Regions from separate parts of the Homo sapiens genome. Here region 2 is linked to region 1. The links come from fine-mapping of genetic effects on gene expression. A gene starts in region 1. The other region holds a variant in brackets. All regions are shown on one strand. Distances are between the middles of the regions.

The links. PIP is the estimated chance that this variant, and not a neighbour inherited with it, causes the effect.
Region 2: its variant is fine-mapped to the expression of ERLIN1 in whole blood (TOPMed, PIP 0.97).

Annotation. Positions count from the first base shown.
Region 1 is chr10:100,179,933-100,190,972 of GRCh38, forward strand. It overlaps ERLIN1 (ER lipid raft associated 1), which reads right to left and starts at 6,097. Exons shown (of 11, transcript NM_006459.4): 1 at 5,582-6,097; 2 at 3,824-3,905. The coding sequence starts at 5,694. It overlaps CHUK (component of inhibitor of nuclear factor kappa B kinase complex), which reads right to left. Exons shown (of 21, transcript NM_001278.5): 20 at 10,937-11,036; 21 at 8,368-9,695. The coding sequence ends at 9,666. RefSeq lists a silencer at 5,995-6,144 and an enhancer at 6,315-6,464.
Region 2 is chr10:100,271,772-100,282,811 of GRCh38, forward strand. It overlaps BLOC1S2 (biogenesis of lysosomal organelles complex 1 subunit 2), which reads right to left. Exons shown (of 5, transcript NM_173809.5): 3 at 9,163-9,282; 4 at 8,353-8,457; 5 at 1,522-3,722. The coding sequence ends at 3,691. Among named protein-coding and RNA genes, the nearest start is that of BLOC1S2, 9.4 kb to the right of the region's middle. The variant G/A (reference allele first, on the strand shown) is at 7,113.

The DNA.
Region 1 (11,040 bases):
TGCTAATATTACTATTTATGTTGAAGATAAAAGAGATTTTATGCATACAAGTACTCTAAGACTCAAAGCTGCCCTTGAATCCAACAGCAACCTTTCTTCTCTAAAGCTGTGGTCAACATTTTAGTTTAATACCTAGTGATCTCTCACATGTCCTATTCAGTTTCCTTTTTAATAGAAGTGCTACCACCAGTACTGCTTCCTCCTGGTGAACCAACAATCTGGTACTTAATTGCTTTGCCCTTGTCACACCTTTGTTCAGATCCAGAATGAATGACTTCCTGCTGTACTCTAAGGCCTCAAATAGGTCAGCACCTAATGAGTACATTCTAGACATACTGCATCTTATCAAGCACAAAGCAAAGGAAAAAGGAATCACAGTCCCTGTTTCCAAAGAGTTCACAATCCAGCACAGGAGACAAAATGTTACAATGCAATCAATCCATCAACAGGTACAAAACAAAACAAAACAAAACCAAAAACACAAATTATAAACTGAACTGTTAAGTGGTAAATTACAGAAAGTGAAAAAAATAGTAGTTTGAAAAGCTCTCTGAGGTGAAGGATTTATAAGCCAGGTCTAGAGTGGGAGAAATAAGAACAGATGAGGCAGAGGAACATCTTAAGCTCAATAAATATCCTACTGAAATACACACAGTTGAAGACAACATGTGTATAGGCGAACGAAAGTAGATAGGCTTGCCTGGAGCAGAAGGGACAATTTGGATGAAAGATGAAATTCTGACAAGAGACCATGGTAATACTAGACAGAGGGCCCTGAATGCTGGCTGGGGAGTTTGGGATCTCTCTAGTTCACCTTATATACAGTCACAAAACGAACCATTCAAAAATATGTTTACTTAATTCCTTTTCTCACATGTGATGTAGTTCTCATTCTCCATCTTATAGGGAGGTAAGAAAACCAGCTGGGAGGCTAAATAATTAATTTATTTAGATTAATTCAGTAAAGGCCATGAAAGCTGTCAATCCAGACATAATAGAGGAGGTATCTGATACTTGGTTGATATAAAATTCCAGGAGGGGAAAGAATAAAAAATAACTCTTAGGTTGAGACATTAGAATGACAGTAAACATTGGTGGCAGTTCTAGGTTAAGGGGATTGATGAAGAGACAAATTATATTTATTTCCTTTATAACATTAATTCAGTTTCCATATTCCACACCAACTTTAAATACACGTTCCTATTTAAACCAAAAGGATATTCTCTAGCCAATTTTCAAACTCAGAAGAACTAGGAAAGGGTTCAAATGTTAAATCTTCCATTTAACACCCTATCTTTATGTACTTTTATATTTCTTTTATGTCCTCTTAAAAATTACTTTCCCAGTATGACAGAAAATTTATTTAAAAAGTGAATCTATGGTTACTTTATGAAGGCTGAAGGTTTTCATATAATTTCTCCATTGCTTTTTCTTTTTACATCATATATGGAATTTCACATTTATATACATTCCTTTCAATTGCCAAGTTTGTTAAACCATTTGTTTATCTGGACTATGTCTTCTAATATGTTCCAAAAATTCCTAAAAATAAATTTATGTCTTACTCTCTTAAGAACACTCTTTTTTTTTTTTTTTTTTTGAGACGGAGTCTTCCTCTGTTGCCCAGGCTGGAGTGCAAGGGTACGATCTCGGCTCACTGCAACCTCGGTCTCCCAGGTTCAAGCGATTCTCCTGCCTCAGCCTCCCAAATAGCTGGGATTACAGGCACGCACAACCACGCCCAGCTAATTTTTGTATTTTTGTAGACACAGCGTTTGACCAGGTTGGCCAGGCTGGTCTTGAACTCCTGACCTCAAGTGATCTGCCTGCCTCGGCCTCCCAAAGTGCTGGGATTACAGGCGTGAGCCGCCACGCCCGGCCAAGAACACTTTTTAAATATGGTTTTATTAATATAATTATTTCCTAGAATGTTACCGTTTTACACATAAAGAACATTCCTATTTAGTCACACTGGCTGGCTCTAGCCCATGTAAAACTTTTTTGTAGATGCGAAGTATTTTAGTTTACACTGAAGTCTCTGTACTAATTTCATTTACATCTCTTATGATAGTTTATTATTAAATATATACACACACTATATTTGTTATATATATACACAATTAAACTCCAAAATCTGTTTACTATTATCTATATCTCCTTTATTTATATTTTTGCATCAGTATGACTTAACATACTAAGCATGAAGGCAGAGACAGATCTACCTGGTTTTGAACAAGATCTATTTGTTAGAGCCTTGATTTTTTTTTTTTTTTTTTTTTAAGAGACGGAGTTTCCCCATGTTGCCCAGGCTGGTCTCAAACTCCTAGGCTCAAGTGATCCACCTGCTTCAGCCTCCCAAAGTGCTCGGATTACAGGCATGAGCCACTGCGCCGGGCCTTAGAGTCTTGATTTTTAAGGGTCTAATGCTGCCATTGCTAACATTATTATAGATTGTTTCGGCTGTTGATGAGGTTATGTAATTAAAATTCCTCCTTTCACAGAAGACTAACTGAAGTCTATGACAGTTAAGCAATTTTTCCAAAGTCATGCCACCAACTGGCGGTAACGCTGGGTCCCCATGTTCATTACACCACATTGCTTCCTGAGAAATCAGCTCAATTTAACAACTTCCACCATAAATAGAAAGCCAGAAATATAAATGTGTTACAACTCCTGCCTTTAAGAAAACTGGAGCCTTTCTGGAAAGAAAACACATAAAAAAACTTAGCAAACAATGCAAGACAACAATATTAAAGAAAATAAGACAAAGGGCCAAAATTTACAATATAGACTTTAAGAGCTATAGATCAGAAGAGGAAGAATCTGGGATGAGCCTTTAAAAGCCTGGCAAGATTTAGACAGGAGAAAAGGAATGGAGAGTGAGATGGCAGATAAAGAAGTGATGGCATGAACTAAGGAAAGAATGGGTAAAATAAATATGGAACAACATATGGAAATCAGTCTGATTAGGGGAAGAATACATTTCACTTCAGTAGACACAATTCTTTCCCTAAGCCATCTAAAAGGGGACAGGAAGAAAACCTAGGGGATTTAAGAATTTATAATTAAACTCTCACTTAGCAGGAAGCCTAGACATAAGATTACAAGATTAAATAACACAGAATTTTCCTGAGTCCTGAAAAATTAGCAGCAGATGGCAGACAAACTTCTGAATCCAAAGATTTATGATCACACTGGGCTTGCGAAAGTGGTCACAGCCTAATCCTGGTTTTGTCATCTTGTTACATTGAAAGATACTTATTTTATTGTCTCCCATGGCCAAGACACTTTTCGAGGATTAGACACTTATTTCAAATATCCCGGGATGCCATCAAAATATAACATTCACTAAGGTTCCACATAAAATTGTGCTTAATATACCAGGCAAAAAAACATGAGGCAGAAAGGCTGTGTATAAAAATTTTGATCCTCCATGTTAACAGTAGCCCAGGAGCCTGCCTCTATGGAAACTAAACACTGTTCTAAACCACATAATCACTGGTTTGTATGTCTAGTTGTGTTTCTAATTCTTACTTTTATTGTGACAGCAGCAACAGAAAATTTGCTATATACCACGATATAGATGGTAGAAGTCAGTCCTTCCAAGCTTCCTGGTTCATACCTTTAATTCATTTCAAGTAAGTGAGGTGGTTTAACATCATAACTTGTGTTGTAACAACTGTACTCTGAACGTTAACTTCTGCATTTAAGTAAATACCACCATCTGCTTAAGCAATAAGGAAATCTATCTCCACCCACAAGTGTGGTAACTCCTGTCATGCCTGTCTATCTGGTATGGAGGCTTCCCCTAGGAATCACTCACCTGCACAGATCTGAACGTAGTAATGAAAGGCAACATGATATGATAGCCTGGTCCACTGGGGCTAGTTAGTAAAGCTCCTCCCCTGCAAAAAGATGTTTCAATTTGACAAAATTATAAAAAGAAAAATTATCTTTCCAAATCTAAAATGCTATAATAAATACTCACTCTTGCTCATGCTGCTGACCTACTAAAGCCTCACTAATATGAATTGCTCATAATGAACAACTGCTTAAAATACCTCCACACCTAAAAAGGGAAAAAGATCAAATTAAACTGCCAATGTTACACCTTGTTTCATAAGCTCAACCAACCGTACCTCTGGGTCTCCAGCACTGCTCTAAGGTTCAAAGGATTCTCCTCGGTCTTTAACCTTCTGAGAAATATTTGTTTAAAAAATTCTAATGGCTTTCAGTAGAGGTACATTAATAGTACATAACAAGAGCCAAATCAAAATATATAATACATTTAATCACCAGGTTGAAAAAAAGACAATGCAAACTTTGAAGTAAAGAGAAAATTTCTGAGGCTTATAATTCTTTCGATCTATCTACAAGGTAATTAAAATACTGGGAACATAAAATTTCTATATAAAAACAAAAAATTAGCATGAAAAGATGAAGGGTGACAAGACTATACAAATAAATAGCATAAGGGCTTGTTAACCAAATCCTGGAATGTGAAAACTATGAAAGCAAGCCCTGGAAATTATAAAAAGGAGGCATTTGGGGAGCAAAGAAAACAAAGTCCTATTTTGCACCTTGTAAATTCATAGAACTTAGCTACCGGTCTTGAAAATATAAACACATTTGCAAGGTCATAATAACAAGGAAAGATGAACTGTTTGAGGTTCATTACTAATTCTTTGAGTCATTCCTTGAAATGTCCTTTCTCTGGTTTTACTGTCAGAAAGACAATGCTTTTAAACTGGAAGGAAATCTGGACTAATCTGTAATTTCTTATGTAGAGCTCCATCTGCTAAGATATACCATTAAAATTGCTCTTTTTCTAGGATTCAGGATGGATTTGAAAGTAGAAATATCAGTTTTGAGGGATAGTGGAAACAAGCAAAAAGTTGACGCTCTTTTTGAATACACCATTATCCCAATTTCTCCACAAACTGGCCTCTCTTACTAGTCTGTATCAAAAGGAACTTGTGGTAATTAGGCTGAAGGAAAAGCTAAGCGAGCTCAACAAGAGAGCAACAGCTCCCACACCACTCCTGTCCCCAACTTGAACAGCAACAGTAAGGAGGGAGGAGCATGGCCCATCAGTGTTGTGCTTATGTCCCTGGAGGTCCAGGGACATAAGCACCATCACAGTCATCATGGTGTTACAAGACGTAACCAGACACTGGAAGCTTTTAAATGAAAAAGTCTAAGAAACAACCATAAACATACAGCATCTACAGCGGCAAACTAAAGCCTGTACAGTTGAACGAACTATAATTTATCCATCTCTTCAGTTAGAGGTAGAGTGACTACTTCCTTTCTTCCTTCTTCATTTTTCTACAAATAATTGAGTTTGCTGTGTATAGGAATAACCGTAGGGAGACTTAATCTCTGCAACAAAACGAACATAGCACTAAAACTGTCCAACATCTGGAGGGTGCTCCGCAAAAGCCCGCTTCGACCCCCGTGCTCTCCCTAGAGATGGGACATGCGCCCCCGAACGTTGCAGAGGGAACAACTTCCCAGACTCCACTCTGGAGTACCCTTTTAATCTGCTCTAGAGCCCTAACTGACTGCACATGCCGCTCACCTGTAGTACACAGCCAGATGGCCCTCCTCAATCTTGTGGATGGAGGCGTAGAGCAGGACAGCCACCAACCCCACCACTGCAGCCACCAGAACCCGGGCTTGAGTCATATTCATTCTCGTTCCTCCTGGGAGCGGGAGAAAAGGACCCTCAGTCCCGTGAGTGACAGGTCCACCCCCTCCAGTTTCTACCCTCTCCCTCCGGAAACTTGGCGCTCTCTCGCAGGCTGAGCCGGGGAGTCCAGTACCCCTGTCCCCTCATTCTTCCCTTCTGGCTGAGCCCGCTGACCCCTTGCCAACTCCTCCGCCCCCGGAGGCCAGTGGGCCGCCCCTGCTCGGTGAGCTTCCTGAAACTCCCTCTCCCAAGGGTCGCTCCCGGGTGGAAGGCACTAACTGAGAAGAAGCCCAGCCGCAGGCTCGCGAGGAAAGCCGACCCCTCGGCCGCGCCTCACCGATCAGTGACGCATCGCCCCCGCCCGCACGTGCAGCCGACTCCCGCGCCGAGCCAACCGCCGCCAACAGCCGGCCCCGCCCACTCGCCCAGCACTGCGGCTGCGCGGGGACGCACACGGCGTAGCCCCGGCCCGCGGCTAGTGAGACGGGGAGCGCATGGGACAAAATTCTCCTAGCCGCGGGCCGCGCAGGCTCCTTTGGAGGCAAGTCGCTTTCTGTACACTGCTGGTTAACTGCTTCGGAAGAGGACAGCCCGCAGTCTGGAGTGAGCAGCGAAGCAGAGAAAAGGAGACGCCCTTTCGGACAAGGGACTGGTTGGTTTGTTCTTGTGCAGAGAACCCACTCGCTCACTCTCAAACGGTAGCTGTTCGGTTTATTTGTCCTTTTGCAGTGTATGCGGAGCCCCACTGTGTGGCACGCACTTGCTTCCGGCAGAGATCCTGCCCTTCAGGAGCAACTAAACTTGTTGCAAATAAAGTGCTGTGAAAGTTCAGAAGAGGAAGATATTAGATATAACGGCATCATTCTCTCGTTTTTTAAGTGTTCCTATTATGTGCCAGAATGCTGGTCCAGTGAGGGCTTTATGAAGGCCATCCAGACTACAGGAACAGAATTGCTAAGCACATGGGGCGGGAGGCGGAGGGAATCCTCCAGGGAGACCAAAGTAAGTACTTCAGTTTCCTTGAAGGCTTGTGTGATGGGAAGGAGTGCTATGGTAGGCGTCACTACATATTCTGTTCGTTTTAAATTAAAAAACCATGGGCACATATTGCCAAAAATAAAAAAGGGAAGGAAAAAGGTATAGTTGGGAGATAGATGAATACAAGAGAAATTAAGGACATTAATGGTTTAAGCCTTGAAAGGCTAGAGGTGGAACTATAACTGGACAAGGTGGACTAGGGTTGTAAAGTCCTCTAACCCAGCGGACGGGGTGGGGGTGTGTGTGGGTTGGGGATGAAACTGTTCCACTTCAGATCATCAGGCATTAGATTCTCACAGGGAGCCGGCAAACCTCACATGTGCAGTTCACAATAGGGTTCGCGTGCCTATGAGAATCTGATGCCACTCGCTAATCTGACAGCAGGCAGAGCTCAAGGCGATAATGCTCACTCGCCCGCCGCTCACCTCCTGCTATCCGGCTTGGTTCCTAACAGGCCACTGTCTGGTTCCGGTCCGCGGCCCAGGGCTTGGGGACCCCTGCCCTCTTGGGTAGGGAAGTATGGGAAAGCAGTGCTTTAGGGCCAATGAATCTATAAAACGGCTGAAAGTGGAGACAGACTGTTGGCAAGGAAGTCAAGTGGTTAGGAAACTGCAGGCCCAGGGTTACTTAGTAGTGGAAGTAAGAAGAGGTAAATAGAATCAATCCGTCTTCATTAAAGCAAGACTTCCCAGACCACTCTACCCACACCCTTCAATAAATACACTTACCTGTATCATTCATTTGATTTTTATTATCTAGGAATGTCTGGGACCTTATCTGTTCCAAATAAATGATATTTGCAGAGCTTAGCTATTTTAACTTCCAAAAAGCAAAAAGAATGGAAAATAACTTGCTCCATACCCTGTTTTCTGTAGACATTCTCTGAAGTTTTTCATAATATTGCTTAAAGAATGAAATGTATACAATTCACAACTGCCATTCCCCTCTGAAAAGTTGTTACCCACCAAAAAATAGTGGTCCAACTCATGCATCAAAAGCAAGTTTGGGGATCCCACTATAATAGTCTGTTCTGACTCACACCATCTGCCCAAATTATATAGATCAGGCTGCCCTGACATAACCCCAGCCACACACCAGCAGCGGCCCCCACGCTATAACAAATCTTTAACCAATTATTAAAATATTAGAAAATGCATGACCATTGAAAATAATCCTTAACAATAATTGCAATGCTTGGATGGCTTGTAATGTTCAGACTCCCAGATAAGCACTTTTACTATACTGCCTATGTTGTTTCAGATCTTGCCATCTAGCTTAATACCCTCCAAGTAACAGGTACCCAATAAATGTTTATTACTAAAATCTTCTAAAACCAGGGAAACAAGAGAGAGACTGCCTATTATAATAGATGACGAACAGTGATATGTGATGACTAAAAAATTTGGTTGACTAGGAAAATGATACCACTAGCAAAAATGGGGATGGTGGGGCTGTGACATCAGTTTATAGGGCAAGAATCGAGCATGTTTTTTAGATGTAGATAGTGGTGATAGGACATCTCAGAGGAAAACACTCTTAAAGAAGTTGCCCAATACTACCTTTACCATAAGTCCTATTATTCCTAAGGAAAGTACAGTTATTCTATGCTCTTAATTCCACTTCATGGAACCTTCATATTTTCCTAAGCCATATTCAACTGTTTTATTATAATCTGATTTTTATAATGAATAGAGATCAAGAAAGTAATTTAAAAACCATTTAATACACAAAGTGAAAAACTATTAGAATATAAAAGCATTTCACATTTTTTAAGACAAATAATATCTTCTAAATTACTTAGCAGATGATAGAGGTCCACAGTCCTTTCTCTGAAACCCTTGGGGCAAGTTGTTTCAGAATTATGAAATTTTAGATTTTAGAAAAGTAGTTTTGTGCATATACCATACTACATTAACCAGCCCTCACCACAGTCTGTGGCAGCAGCCCTCCCTCTCATCATCAAGCAGCAAAATAAAGGAATATTCACACTAAATGGGATAAAAAGATTCAAGGTCAGTTCAGATTAGATTGCAAGCAAATGAATTTTGTCACCAAGCTTATGGAAACCTTGTTTTCAGAGCTTTTTGGATTTTGGAATTACAATTACAGATAAAGGAGTGCAGACCTTTATAAATTTGTATGACAAGACATGAAAGATTGTTTAAACAAATGACTCATTTTTACAAATGAAAAAACATGTAATTTTCAAATACATTATAAATTAACAGGCATCTTCTCTTTGATATTATTAAATGTACATCTTAAATACATATACACACAACAACATGATTTATGAAAGCCAACTAATATTAGAAGCACAGATACACAATCCCTTCGATGAGAAGGGGATACTGTTAAATTTTCAGTGGAATTTAAAATGATTACACCAACTCCTTATGATGCCAGGAAGAGAACCTGTTCAGTGCAACACAAGGAGGTAGAATTTATTCTTCAAGAAATAGAACTTGTGAGCAGCCTTTTTAGAAAAAAACACAGGTAGACTTTTACTTAAAATGCCTATTACTTGAGGTTTTCTTCTCTGTATACAAAACTACATTTGGTCTTACGCCCAAAAGTTAAAAGTTGACACTAATACATAGAAGGTATTTTTAATCAGTTAAATAAGTAATGTTTTACCAAGACTGAAGGCAAATGTGTCGTGATGATGCTTCTAAATAGCTGTGGTATTAAAACAAATATTCAAACAAGTACATTGACTTTTTCTAAATTCCTGTCTGTTTAGAGGCTTGAATTACTCAAAACTGTTATACTTGTAAAATCATGTTCTTCTGATCATAGTAGAAATGTAGTTTCTGTTCATAGCCATTTCTTCCATTGACTGATGTCTGAAGAATGGTTTCATGGGGGAAAAACACATTTCCAACATGTATAGCAACAACTTCCATAGGTTTGGGGACAGTGAACAAGTGACAACTCATTCTGTTAACCAACTCCAATCAAGATTCTAAAACCAGGCATGAAAAAGTTACAATTAGATGTTGACTATAAGTTATAAGTATATGGGTGTTCATTTTTGCAAGTTTTCTGTTTGGACATTTCATAATCAAAAGTTGAAAAATCATTTCATTTACCTTATTTCCTGATTTAAAAAAATTTCAGAGTTTTTTTCATAAATATTTGAAGTAAACAATTATTCTTTCCTTTTCTTTTCTTTTTTTTTTTTTTCTTAAGAGAGCAGGATCTTGCTATGTTGCCAAGCTGGAGTACAGTGGCTATTCACAAGTCCAATCATAATGCACTGCAGCCTTGAACTCCTGGGCTCATGCAATCCTTCTGCCTCAGCCTCCCTAGTAACTCGGACTACAGGTACATGTCATATGGCTGGCCACCATTATCCTTTTTTTTTTTTTTTTTCCCCGAGACAAAGTCTCACTCTGTCACAGGCTGGAGTGCAATGGCAGGATTACGGCTCACTGCAGCCTGAAACTCTTGAACTCAAGCGATCTTCCTGCCTCAGCCTCCCAAGTAGCTGGGACCACAGGTGTGTGCCACCACACCTGGCCAATTTTTATATTTTTTATAAAGACAGGGTTTCCCATGTTGGCCAGGCTAGTCTCAAACTCCTGGGCTCAAGCAATCCACCTGCCTTGGCCTCCCAAAGTGCTAGGATTACAGGCGTGAGCCACCATGCCTGGCCACTGCTATTTTTCTTAATGAAAGAGGAAATGTACAGAATTGACATTAAGACTAAATGCAGGAAAAATTGATTCAGTAGACATTTTATGGTAATTTCCTCAAGTTTTAACAAATCAGTAGTTTATAGTAACCAAATCTTAACACACACTTATTATTACAACTATATTAACATAATTTATTTTCTATTCGGGAGGTACCATATCTGAATTAAAGTACAAGTCCCATCTTAATGGAGAAAATTGATTGCTGAAGCAAAAAGGTACAGAACAAACCATTCAATTTCAATGGTCACATTGTGAAGAAGCTTACCACTCATTTAATTTGACCAAAAATGCTATTATTGAAGATAATTGATGACATAATCCTAGTATATCCCTGAGTAACGGCAGATAAGGATTTAAGGTTGAGGATATTCCCCAAATGCTCTTTCCTCTTGAGTTCTTCTATTTCCCATATGCATCCCAAATGCCAGATAAGGCTAGCATGGAAAGTTAAACCTTTTGCACCCAACATAGCCAAAGCAGGCACCCATATCCACACAAAACTTACCATCATACTATTGCCCTGTTCCTCATTTGCCTCATGAATAATAGTGCTTAAATGGCCAAGGCAGTTCAAATTTTCTTCTATCATTTGTGCTGAAGTCTCCCTGT
Region 2 (11,040 bases), 92 kb after region 1:
ACAAAAGCAAAAATAGACTAATAGGATTATATCAAACTAAAAAGCTCTGCACAGCAAAGGAAACAATCAACAAAGTGAAGAGGCAACCCACAGAATGGAAGAAAATATTTGCAAACTATCCATCTGACAAGAGATTAATAACCAGAATAAATATAACAAGGAGCTCAAACAACTCAATAGCGAAAAAAACCCACAAAAAATCCTGTCTAAAAATGGGCAAAGCCATATGTGGTGGTGCTTGCCTGTAGTCCCAGCTACTCAGGAGGCTGAAGCAGGAGGGTTTTTTTGGGGGAGGGGGAGGGGGTGGGGAGATGGAGTCTCACTCTGTCACCCAGGTTGGAGTGCAGTGGCACAGTCTCAGCTCACTGCAACTTCCACCTCTGGGGTCCAGGTGATTCTCCTGCCTCAGCCTCCCAAGTAGCTGGGATTACAGGTGCTCACCACCATGCCTGGCTAATTTTTTGTAGTTTTAGTAGAGATAGGGTTTCACTATGTTGGCCAGGCTGGCCTTGAACTCCTGACCTCAGATGGTCCACCTACTCAGCCTCCCAAAGTGCTGGGATTACAGGCCTCAGCCACTATGCCCAGTCCCAGGAGGACTGTTTGAGCCCAGTTTGATTCCAGCATGGGCAACATAATGAGAACTCATCTCTTAAAAAAACAAAGCGGGGGGAGCAAAAGATCAAAATAGACATTTCTCAAGACATACAAATGGCCAACAGCTATAAGAAAAAATGCTCAACATCACCAATCATCAGAGAAATGCAAATCAAAGCCACAACAAGATATCACCTCATCCCACTTAAAATTTCCTATCAAGACGACAGGAATTAACAGATGCTGGCAAGGATGCAGAGAAAGAGGAACTCTTGTACACAGTTGGTGGGAATGTAAATTAGTACAGCCACTATGGAAAATTGTATAGTTTCCTCCAAAAACTAAAAATAGAACTACAATATGATCCAGCAAATTCCACTACTGGGTATGTATCCAAAAGAAAGGAAATCAATATATCAAAGAGATATATGCACTCTCATGTTTATTGCAGCACTATTCACAATAGCTAAAATATGGAATCAACCTAAGTGTCCATCAATGGATGAATGGGTAAAGAAAATGTGGTATATATACACAATGGAATATTGTTCAGCCATAAAAGGAATGAAATTCTGTCATTCTCAGCAACATGGATGAAACTGGAGGTGATTGTGTTAACTGAACTAAGCCAAGCACAGAAAAGACAAATATTACATGTTCTCACTCACATGTGGGAGCTAAAAAAGTGGATCTCATGGAGATGGAGGTAGATTGGTGGTTACCAGAGGCCAGGAAAGGTGGTGGGGACGTGAGGATGAAGAGTTTGATTAGTGGACACAAATACAGAAGAAATAAGACCTATGATAGATCAGTAGAGTAACTATAGCTAATGTTAATCTATTGTACATTTCAAAATAGGTAAAAGAGAATAATTCAAATAATGTTCCTAGCATAAAGACAAGATAAATATTAAGGTGAAGGACATCCCAATAACTCTTGATTTAATATTTACACATTATATACATGTATTAAATTATCACTTGTACTCTGAAAATACATACATCTATTACACATCAATAAAAAAACTCATCCATTAAATTCTGTATTATCTTTGCAACTTTCCCGTAAATCTAAATCTATTTTCAAAAAGTTTATGAAAACTCATCCATGGGAATTTAAGGTGGCTGAAGATAGCTGAACACAGTGTAACAGGAAATAAAAACTTTTTAAAAATAGATCAACATGGCTGGGTGCGGTGGCTCACACCTGTAATCCCAGCACTTTGGGAGGCCGAGGTGGGTGGATCATTTGGGGTCAGGAGTTCGAGACCAGCCTGGCCAACATGGTGAAACCCCGTCTCTACTAAAAATACAAAAATTAGCCTGGCATGGTGGTGGGCACCTGTAAATCTCAACTACTCGGGAGGCTGAGGCAGGAGAATCGCTTGAACCCAGGAAACAGAGGTTGCAGTGAGCTAAGATCGCACCACTGCACTCCAGCCCAGGCGACAGAGCAAGACTTCATCTCAAAAAAAAAAAAAAAATAGATCAATACATGCACGGAAAAGGAAAAGGGTTGGAAGAAGGGGTAAGACTGATTCTATGTTAAGATAGTAGAGTTACAGTTTAATTCTTTTGTTTTTTATTTAAGAAAAATGTTTAAATAGGGGCCTTATGTTAGGCACGGTGGTTCATGCCTACAATCTCAGCACTCTGGCAGGCTGTGGTAAGAGAATCACTTGAGGCCAGTTCAAGACCAGCCTGGACAACATAGTGAGACTCCATCTGTATAAAAAATAATTAGCAAGGCATGGTGGAGCGTGCTGGTAGTCCCAGCTATTCAGGAGGCTGAGGTGGGAAGATCAGTTGAGCCTAGGAGGTCAAGGTGAGCTATTATCACACCACCACACTCCAGCCTGGGTGACAATAGAGACCCTGTCTATAAACAAACAAAAAAACACAAGGGACTTGTATGCATAATGAAAGTCTAGATTTTTCAGAGGCCATGATAAGTCACTACAGGGTTCTAAGCAGGAGTAATAGGGCCAGTTTACATTTTTAAGATTGCTCTGGCAGCAGTGTGGAGGGTGGTTGGAAGGGACAGTTAAGATGAGAAGAGACCACAGCAACAGTCCAGGAAGAACAGAGGATAAATGATGACTGTCTGGAACAGAGGGGAAATGACAGAAACAGAAGTAAGAAACTCTTTGGGATATGTAATTGGGGACCTCAGACACCTTCCCAGCTGCTAATGTTGTGTTCTGGGTAAGGCTGCCTATCTTTCAACCTAGACTGGTCAGTCAGTATGTCCCATTGTCTGATGTTTTTAGTGTGCAAAGAAGTCGATTAGGTCCCTAAGATCCCCCCAAATCCTACATACACAGTAGGAAGGTATTTTATAAAATCCTTTATTTTATGAGTGGCAATCGTCACCTCCCTACCCAACACATAAACACACATACCCATCTAGTCTTTGTTTTCATCACATTTCCCAAACTGATCGCATGTCAATGTGACTCACATAGAAAATAAACAAGAGGGGCCCATCACATACGCCAAGTTATCAATACTCCTTTCACCATTTCTGCTCAATCTAGAAGACTCAGCTTGGAATTATTTTAAGATTTTATGTTATTTGCAATATTATGGAAAAGTAAGTTACCGACATTCACAAGGTGATAAGCTGCAAAGAACAAGTTTGTTTTGTTTTCCTTTTTAAATTTAGAATCTTGTTTACAACACATTAGCATCATTAACAGAAAAACGACCATTTACATAGTAACTAAAAAACCAGCCACTTAAGAAAATAATGTAGTAATCAACCACTACCAGAGAAAATAGGTCCTCTCATTTGATTTTACTGGTAAGTCCAGCTGTTTTCTGAACTTTGTGAGAGTCTCTGTCCTGAATATGGCAAAGCATTCAAGTAAAAGGTAGGAAGTTATAAGTGTGAGATTCTGAGGGATTCTGTCTCAAAGAAGGTTCAGGAATAGCCACAGTCCTCCAGTTTACTCGAACGTTGAGATGTTCCTGTGATGACCAGCATAATTTCCTTTTGAGGAATTTTCACAATTCATCAGCCTCAGGATTCAGGTTTTATAAGACATTCTTCCACATTAAAAAAAAAAGACTCTGTCCCATAGAAATAAGTTTCTCATCGCTTCTCCAGCTTCTTGTACTTGGCTTCTGTGAGGGATGAGGGAGAGTTACATCTTTTAAAACTGGCTCTTACAAAGACAGTTTTTAGTTAGCATTTCCAGTCAAGTTTAAAAAATATGTATAATATTACTAAAAATCTATTAGCTTCAATCTCATCATCTGTCCAAATATACGGATCACTGATCTGTAAAACTTGGAATAAGAATTCAAGCACAGACACTCAGAACTGAGAGCCTAACACAGGTTCACGAAGTCCTCACCCTGTCAACAGCACCTACTTAGACAGCTCCACCAGGATGGGGCACATCTGTCACTTGACCTATCGGGAGCCTTACTAAAAAACTGCCTCTCTCAGCACTGTCCCAGGTGCCCTCTGGAACCAGACTGGAACCCTCAGGAAGTATAAATGTATGTTTCCTCCTGTATGTTCTTATCCTTACACCTTACTCCAGGAAAGCAATTTTGAAAGATACAGATATTTAAAAGGCCATCAAATAAGCCTCTTACTCTGACATTCCGTTTTTCTATTAAAACCATGAAAGCACCTGGTTTCACAATTTTAACAGAAAAAGGGACTCTGTCACAAATGGTTACTGTGAACCAAGATACTTTCTACATGGTAAGGTTACCCCTGCCTTCTACGCGGTAAGGTTCACGGTAATCACTGGCTAAATGTAACTGTAGAAAATAAAACTGATTGTTAATCGCCACCCATATCAAATCCCAGCCTACTACAAACTACTTTCTTGAAGTAGTCAGCCCTTGTTAAATGATGAAAATAAAATAATCTGTAAATGTTATAAGGACAAAAACAAACTCAGGCCCGTCTCCCTCTCCATCTCCCTCTCCCGTCTCCCTCTCTCTCTCCCGTCTCCCTCTCCCGTCTCCCTCTCCCGTCTCCCTCTCCCGTCTCCCTCTCCCGTCTCCCTCTCCCTCTCCCGTCTCCCTCTCCCTCTCCCGTCTCCCTCTCCCTCTCCCGTCTCCCTCTCCCTCTCCCGTCTCCCTCTCCCTCTCCCGTCTCCCTCTCCCTCTCCCTCTCCCGTCTCCCTCTCCCTCTCCTTTCCACGGTCTCCCTCTCAAGCCGGGCCAAAGCTGGACTGTACTGCTGCCATCTCGGCTCGCTGCAGCCTCCCTGCCTGATTCTCCTGCCTCAGCCTGCCGAGTGCCTGCGATTGCAGGCGCGCGCCGCCACGCCTGACTGGTTTTCGTGTTTTTTTGGTGGGGACGGGGTTTCGCTGTGTTGGCCGGACTGGTCTCCAGCTCCTAGCCGCGAGTGATCCGCCAGCCTCGGCCTCCCGAGGTGCCGGGATTGCAGACGGAGTCTCATTCACTCAGTGCTCAATGGTGCCCAGGCTGGAGTGCAGTGGCGTGATCTCGGCTCGCTATGGCCTCCACCTCCCAGCCGCCTGCCTTGGCCCCCCCAAAGTGCGGAGATTGCAGCCTCTGCCTGGCCGCCACCCCGTCTGGGAAGTGAGGAGTGTCTCTGCCTGGCTGCCCATCGTCTGGGATGTGAGGAGCCCCTCTGCCTGGCTGCCCAGTCTGGAAAGTGAGGAGCGTCTCTGCCCGGCCGCCATCCCACCTGGGAAGTGAGGAGCGCCTCCTCCCGGCCGCCATCCCATCTAGGAAGTGAGGAGCGTCTCTGCCCGGCAGCCCACCGTCTGAGATGTGGGGAGCGCCTGTGCCCCGCCGCCCCATCTGGGAGGTGAGGAGCGTCTCTGCCCGGCCGCCCCGTCTGAGAAGTGAGGAGACCCTCCGCCTGGTAACCGCCCCGTCTGAGAAGTGAGGAGCCCCTCCGCCTGGCTGCCACCCCGTCTGGGAAGTGAGGAGCGTCTCCGCCCGGCAGCCACCCCGGCCGGGAGGGAGGTGGGGGTCAGCCCCCCGCCCGGCCAGCCGCCCCGTCCGGGAGGTGAGGGGCGCCTCTGCCCGGCCGCCCCTACTGGGAAGTGAGGAGCCCCTCTGCCCAGCCAGCCACCCCGTCCGGGAGGGAGGTGGGGGGGTCAGCCCCCCGCCCGGCCAGCCGTCCCGTCCGGGAGGGAGGTGGGGGGGTCAGCCCCCCGCCTGGCCAGCTGTCCCGTCCGGGAGGGAGGTGGGGGGGTCAGCCCCCCGCCCGGCCAGCCGCTCCGTCCGGGAGGGAGGTGGGAGGGGGTCAGCCCCCCTGCCCAGCCAGCCACCCCGTCCAGGAGGGAGGTGGGGGGCTCAGCCCCCCCGCCCGGCCAGCCGCCCCGTCCGGGAGGGAGGTGGGGGGCTCAGCCCCCCGCCCGGCCAGCCGCCCCGTCCGGGAGGTGAGGGGCGCCTCTGCCTGGCCGCCCCTACTGGGAAGTGAGGAGCCCCTCTGCCCGGCCAGCCGCCCCGTCCGGGAGGGAGGTGGGGGAGTCAGCCCCCCGCCCGGCCAGCCGCCCCGTCCGGGAGGGAGGTGGGGGGGTCAGCCCCCCGCCTGGCCAGCCGCCCCGTCCGGGAGGTGAGGGGCGCCTCTGCCCGGCCGCCCCTACTGGGAAGTGAGGAGCCCCTCTGCCCGGCCAGCCGCCCTGTCCGGGAGGGAGGTGAGGGAATCAGCCCCCCGCCCGGCCAGCCGCCCCGTCCGGGAGGGAGGTGGGGGGCTCAGCCCCCCGCCGGGCCAGCCGCTCCGTCCGGGAGGGAGGTGGGGGGGCGGTCAGCGCCCCCTCCCGGCCAGCCACCCCGTCTGGGAGGGAGGTGGGGGGGTCAGCCCCCTACCCGGCCAGCCGCCCCGTCCGGGAGGGAGGTGGGGGGGTCAGCCCCCCGCCTGGCCAGCCACCCGGTCCAGGAGCTGAGGGGCGCCTCTGCCCGGCCGCCCCTACTGGGAAGTGAGGAGCCCCTCTGCCCGGCCACCACCCCGTCTGGGAGGTGTACCCAACAGCTCATTGAGAATGGGCCATGATGACGATGGCGGTTTTCTGGAATAGAAAAGGGGGCAAGGTGGGGAAAAGATTGAGAAATCGGATGGTTGCCGTGTCTGTGTAGAAAGAAGTAGACATGGGAGACTTTTCATTTTGTTCTGTACTAAGAAAAATTCTTCTGCCTTGGGATCCTGTTGATCTATGACCTTACCCCCAACCCTGTGCTCTCTGAAACATGTGCTGTGTCCACTCAGGGTTAAATGGATTAAGGGCGGTGCAAGATGTGCTTTGTTAAACAGATGCTTGAAGGCAGCATGCTCGTTAAGAGTCATTACCACTCCCTAATCTCAAGTACCCAGGGACACAAACACTCTGCCTAGGAAAACCAGAGACCTTTGTTCACTTGTTTGTCTGCTGACCTTCCCTCCACTAGTGTCCTATGACCCTGCCAAATCCCCCTCTGTGAGAAACACCCAAGAATGATCAATAAAAAAAAAAAAAGGCCTGTGATTCCAGCTACTTGAGAGGCTGAGGTGGGAGGATTGCTTAAGGCCATGAGTTC[G/A]AGACCAGCCTGGGCAACACAGCAAGGCCTTGTTTCAAAAACAATTTTTTTAAAGTAGCTGGATGTGATGGTGCACACCTGTAGTCCCAGGTACTCAGGAGGCTGAGGAAGGAGGATCACTAGAGCCCAGGAGTTCAAGGCTACAGCGAGCTATGATCACGTCATTGCACCCTAGCCTGGGTGACACAGCAAGACCTCATCTCTTATAGAAAAAAAAAACAAAACAACAACAACAAAAAACCCACTAAATTCTTTACTTTTAACCATGTATGTAAGAGCCAGAGCCAGTTAGCAAACCACTAGTACTAAAAATACTAGTTTCTTCCTCAAAGGAAAAGTGATCTTTCAAGAAAATCCTCAACTGACTATTCATTTAAGACATATTTATCTACATTATTAAAGGTGCTTCTGCTTTCTCAACTACAAATAAGAACTTGAGCTTTGTAAGCAAACAGACCTGCTTAGAAATATGGCTCTTCCCTGTACTGGCTTAGTGTCCTTAAGCAACTTACTTATCCCCTTAAACCAGTTTCCTTGCCTACAAAATGAGGATAAAAATCATGTACTTGAACCAGATGTGGTGGCTCACACCTATAATCCCAGCACTTTGGGAGGCTGAGGCGGGCGGATCACGAGGTCAGGAGTTCAAGACCAGCCTGGCCAACATGGTGAAACCTCGTCTCTACTAAAAGTACAAAAAAAAATCATGTACTTACCTCACAGATTATTGGGAAGATAAAAAACATAATACAGGCCAGGCCGAGGTGGGCAGATCACTTGAGGTTGGGAGATCGAGACCAGCCTGACCAACATGAGAGACCCTGTCTCTACTAAAAATACAAAATTAGCCAGGCGTGGTGGCGCGCCTGTAATCCCAGCTACTCGGGGGGCTGAGGCAGGAGAATCGCTTGAACCCAGACCCAGGAGGCGGAGGTTGCGGTGAGCCGAGATCGCACCATTGCACTCCAGCTTGGGCAACAAGAGTGAAACTTGTCTCAAAAAAAACAAACCAAAAACAAAAACCAAACATAATACATGTAAAGCACTAAGAACAGTGCCTGATATATCATTAAGTAATCAGGAAATGTTATTTTTATTAATATAATAATAAATTACTAAGGTTTTGTGAAGATTAATAGATCACTGTAGGCACACCATAAATGTTAACTATTATGTTTACTAAGAATATGCTGGCAAGAAGCAGTCTTTATTACATCAAAACAGAAGTAAAAACGGTTACCCAGTTTTTTTGAATATGCATCCAACTTGTAAGCTGCCTGCTCAAGAGCTGCTACCTGCTCTTCAATGACATTGATCTGATCCAGATAAGGCTGCAGTCCAGCATCTTTAAAAACAAAGAAAAACTTCATGTTTATATGGCTTTATTAACAAAGAATATAGGAAAAGAGTGGAAAAGTAATAATGCTAGTGTCTCTCCAGCTATGCTAAGACAGATTAGGTGGCGTGACATGATTCTGAGCACTAGCAGGGCAGATGCTTTAGAAGACAGTAGCTAGTTGATCAGGCACGACTGTGGCCCAGACTTAGTGTCTCTCATCTACTAATTTTCCATTCTTTTTAATTTCTTGCTCCTTGAGCAATCTTTCCATTACTGATTCTGTTTCTTGGGTACTCCCATACCAAGAAAGAGCACCCTAGAGAAAAGAAACACAAAAATAATAAGTCAATGGAAAAAATATATTCGACTACTCTAAATTAGTGTTTTCCATTATAGAGTTTTTGGTTTTCTGCTTATAGAGTAATCCTTTATGGATTTGTAAATCAATTCATTAGAATCTGGCCACCCTTCCTTTGCCCCCTCCCATTCCAGGAATAAACTGATAAAATCAAGATTTAGAAGCAAAAATACCCATACAAACAAAACATGCTAATCCTCAGAATGGAAGAAATTCATCTTAAATTTGGAATTCATTTTTAGAAAACAAGCTCCCACAAGACAAGGATGTCATGTTCCCTCCTCTTCTCCATGGCCCCAAGCACAAAAGAACATTAAATACAAACATGTTTAATTACAAATATTATTACTTACATTTCTGGTTTAAGTCCTTTAAGTTCCTACTAATGTTTATAGCAATATCTTTCATTTCAAGATACTTCAAGCTGGTGAGTTTATTCATATTTTCCAGGAGCTTATAGTCTTCACTGGTGGCTTGAAAATTAAACAGAAGATGTAATGTCTTTAAGATTTGTCTTAAATCATTAGAATGTGGGAGTATAAGCTAAGTGGTAGTTCAAGGCAGGACCAAGGAAGTGTCAAAGGAGTGGGCCACTTTTGATCTATGACATTTATAACTCAGCCTATGTACTCTGAAAGTCTAGGTAGAAATTCAGGCAACAATCAGAAAACTATTTAAACCAAACAAGATCCAGAAGGTTCAGGATCATGGTTACAAAGGGAAATGATAAACTCATGTCCTAAGAAAAGGGAGGTAAAATAGTCTTGGTACTTCTACAGCATGAAAACATTTAACTTATATACATATAATATATATACTATCAGGCTGGGCGCGGTGGCTCATGCGTGTAATCCCAGCACTTTGGGAAGCCGAGGCGGGTGATCACGAGGTCAGGAGTTCAAGACCAACCTGGCCAAGATAGTGAAACCCCATCTCTACTAAAAATACAAAACAATTAGCGGGCGTGGTGGCAGGCACCTGTAATCTCAGCTACTCGGGAGGCTGAGGCAGAGAATTGCTTGAATCCAGGAGGCGGAGGTTGCAGTGAGCCGAGATTGTGCCACTGCATTCCAGCCTGGGTGACAGAGTGAGACTCCATCTCAAAAAAAAAAAATATATATATATACACATACACACACACACACACACACACACACACACACACTATCAGCTAGGACCTCACTACTTCTTAGTAACTCGTTTATTACCATGTATAATTCTATATTGCATTTTATGCAGTGACATTTCCAAACCATCTGTCTGCTTCTCATATCCTCAGTTCTTTCCCTATCCCCATTCAAAGCAAATGGTCTCTACTCCAATTTTCCTAAAGGCCAAGTCCATTAACATAAGCTGCTTCAACCTCTCTGCCTTACTTCTTTTGTTTTTTGTTTTTCTCTCTGCCTCACTTCTAAACTTCTCTGGATCTTAATATCTTCCCAAGAGGCAGAAGTGTTCCTATTCTTGCCAAGACAACCCCCTCCTCTTGTGGCCTTGAACCCAAACACTTCTACTTCTTCAGGGCCTCTCTTCAATCATCTCCTTTCACTTGCATTTCCAAATTCTCCCTCTCTCCTGGCACCTTCCTCTCTATGTATCAATATATTCAGATTTCTTCCAGCTCAAAAGCACTCTCTCTATTCTGCTACATCTATATCATTTGCTCAGTAAAGCAAAGGAGCTTCACTGCTAAACAATTTGAAAAAGTAGCTGACACTCACTACATCCTCTTCCTTACCATTTACTTGCATATACCCTTGTAGTCTGGTTTTTGGCCCTACCATCCAGAGATTACATGCTCCAAAGTCATCCTGCTCTGCTAACCACCAAATCCATGGCATTTGCTCAGTTCTTATCCTCCTAAACCTCTCCATTGTCTTGGACACTACTGATCTCCTTCTCTTTGGGAAATGCTCATTTCCTTTGGCTGCTATGGCATTGTACTACACCGATGATTTTCTAATCTCTAACTGCTCTTCTTAGATGTCTATGCCAGATGCTTTCTTATCAGACCCCCTTAACTATCAGTTCTCAACTGTTTCTCAGCTGTAACACATAACTGATGTTTACATGGGTAGCACATACCTATGGGCATTCCCAGGCTTATGCTAGAAACTAGCATAGTTTAAGAGGAAATATCAATTTACTCTTAAATTCAATAAAGCATTTGTGCGAGTAAGAATAACAATCACAGGAAAATAACAATTTGCTTAAAATTAATTATATAATAA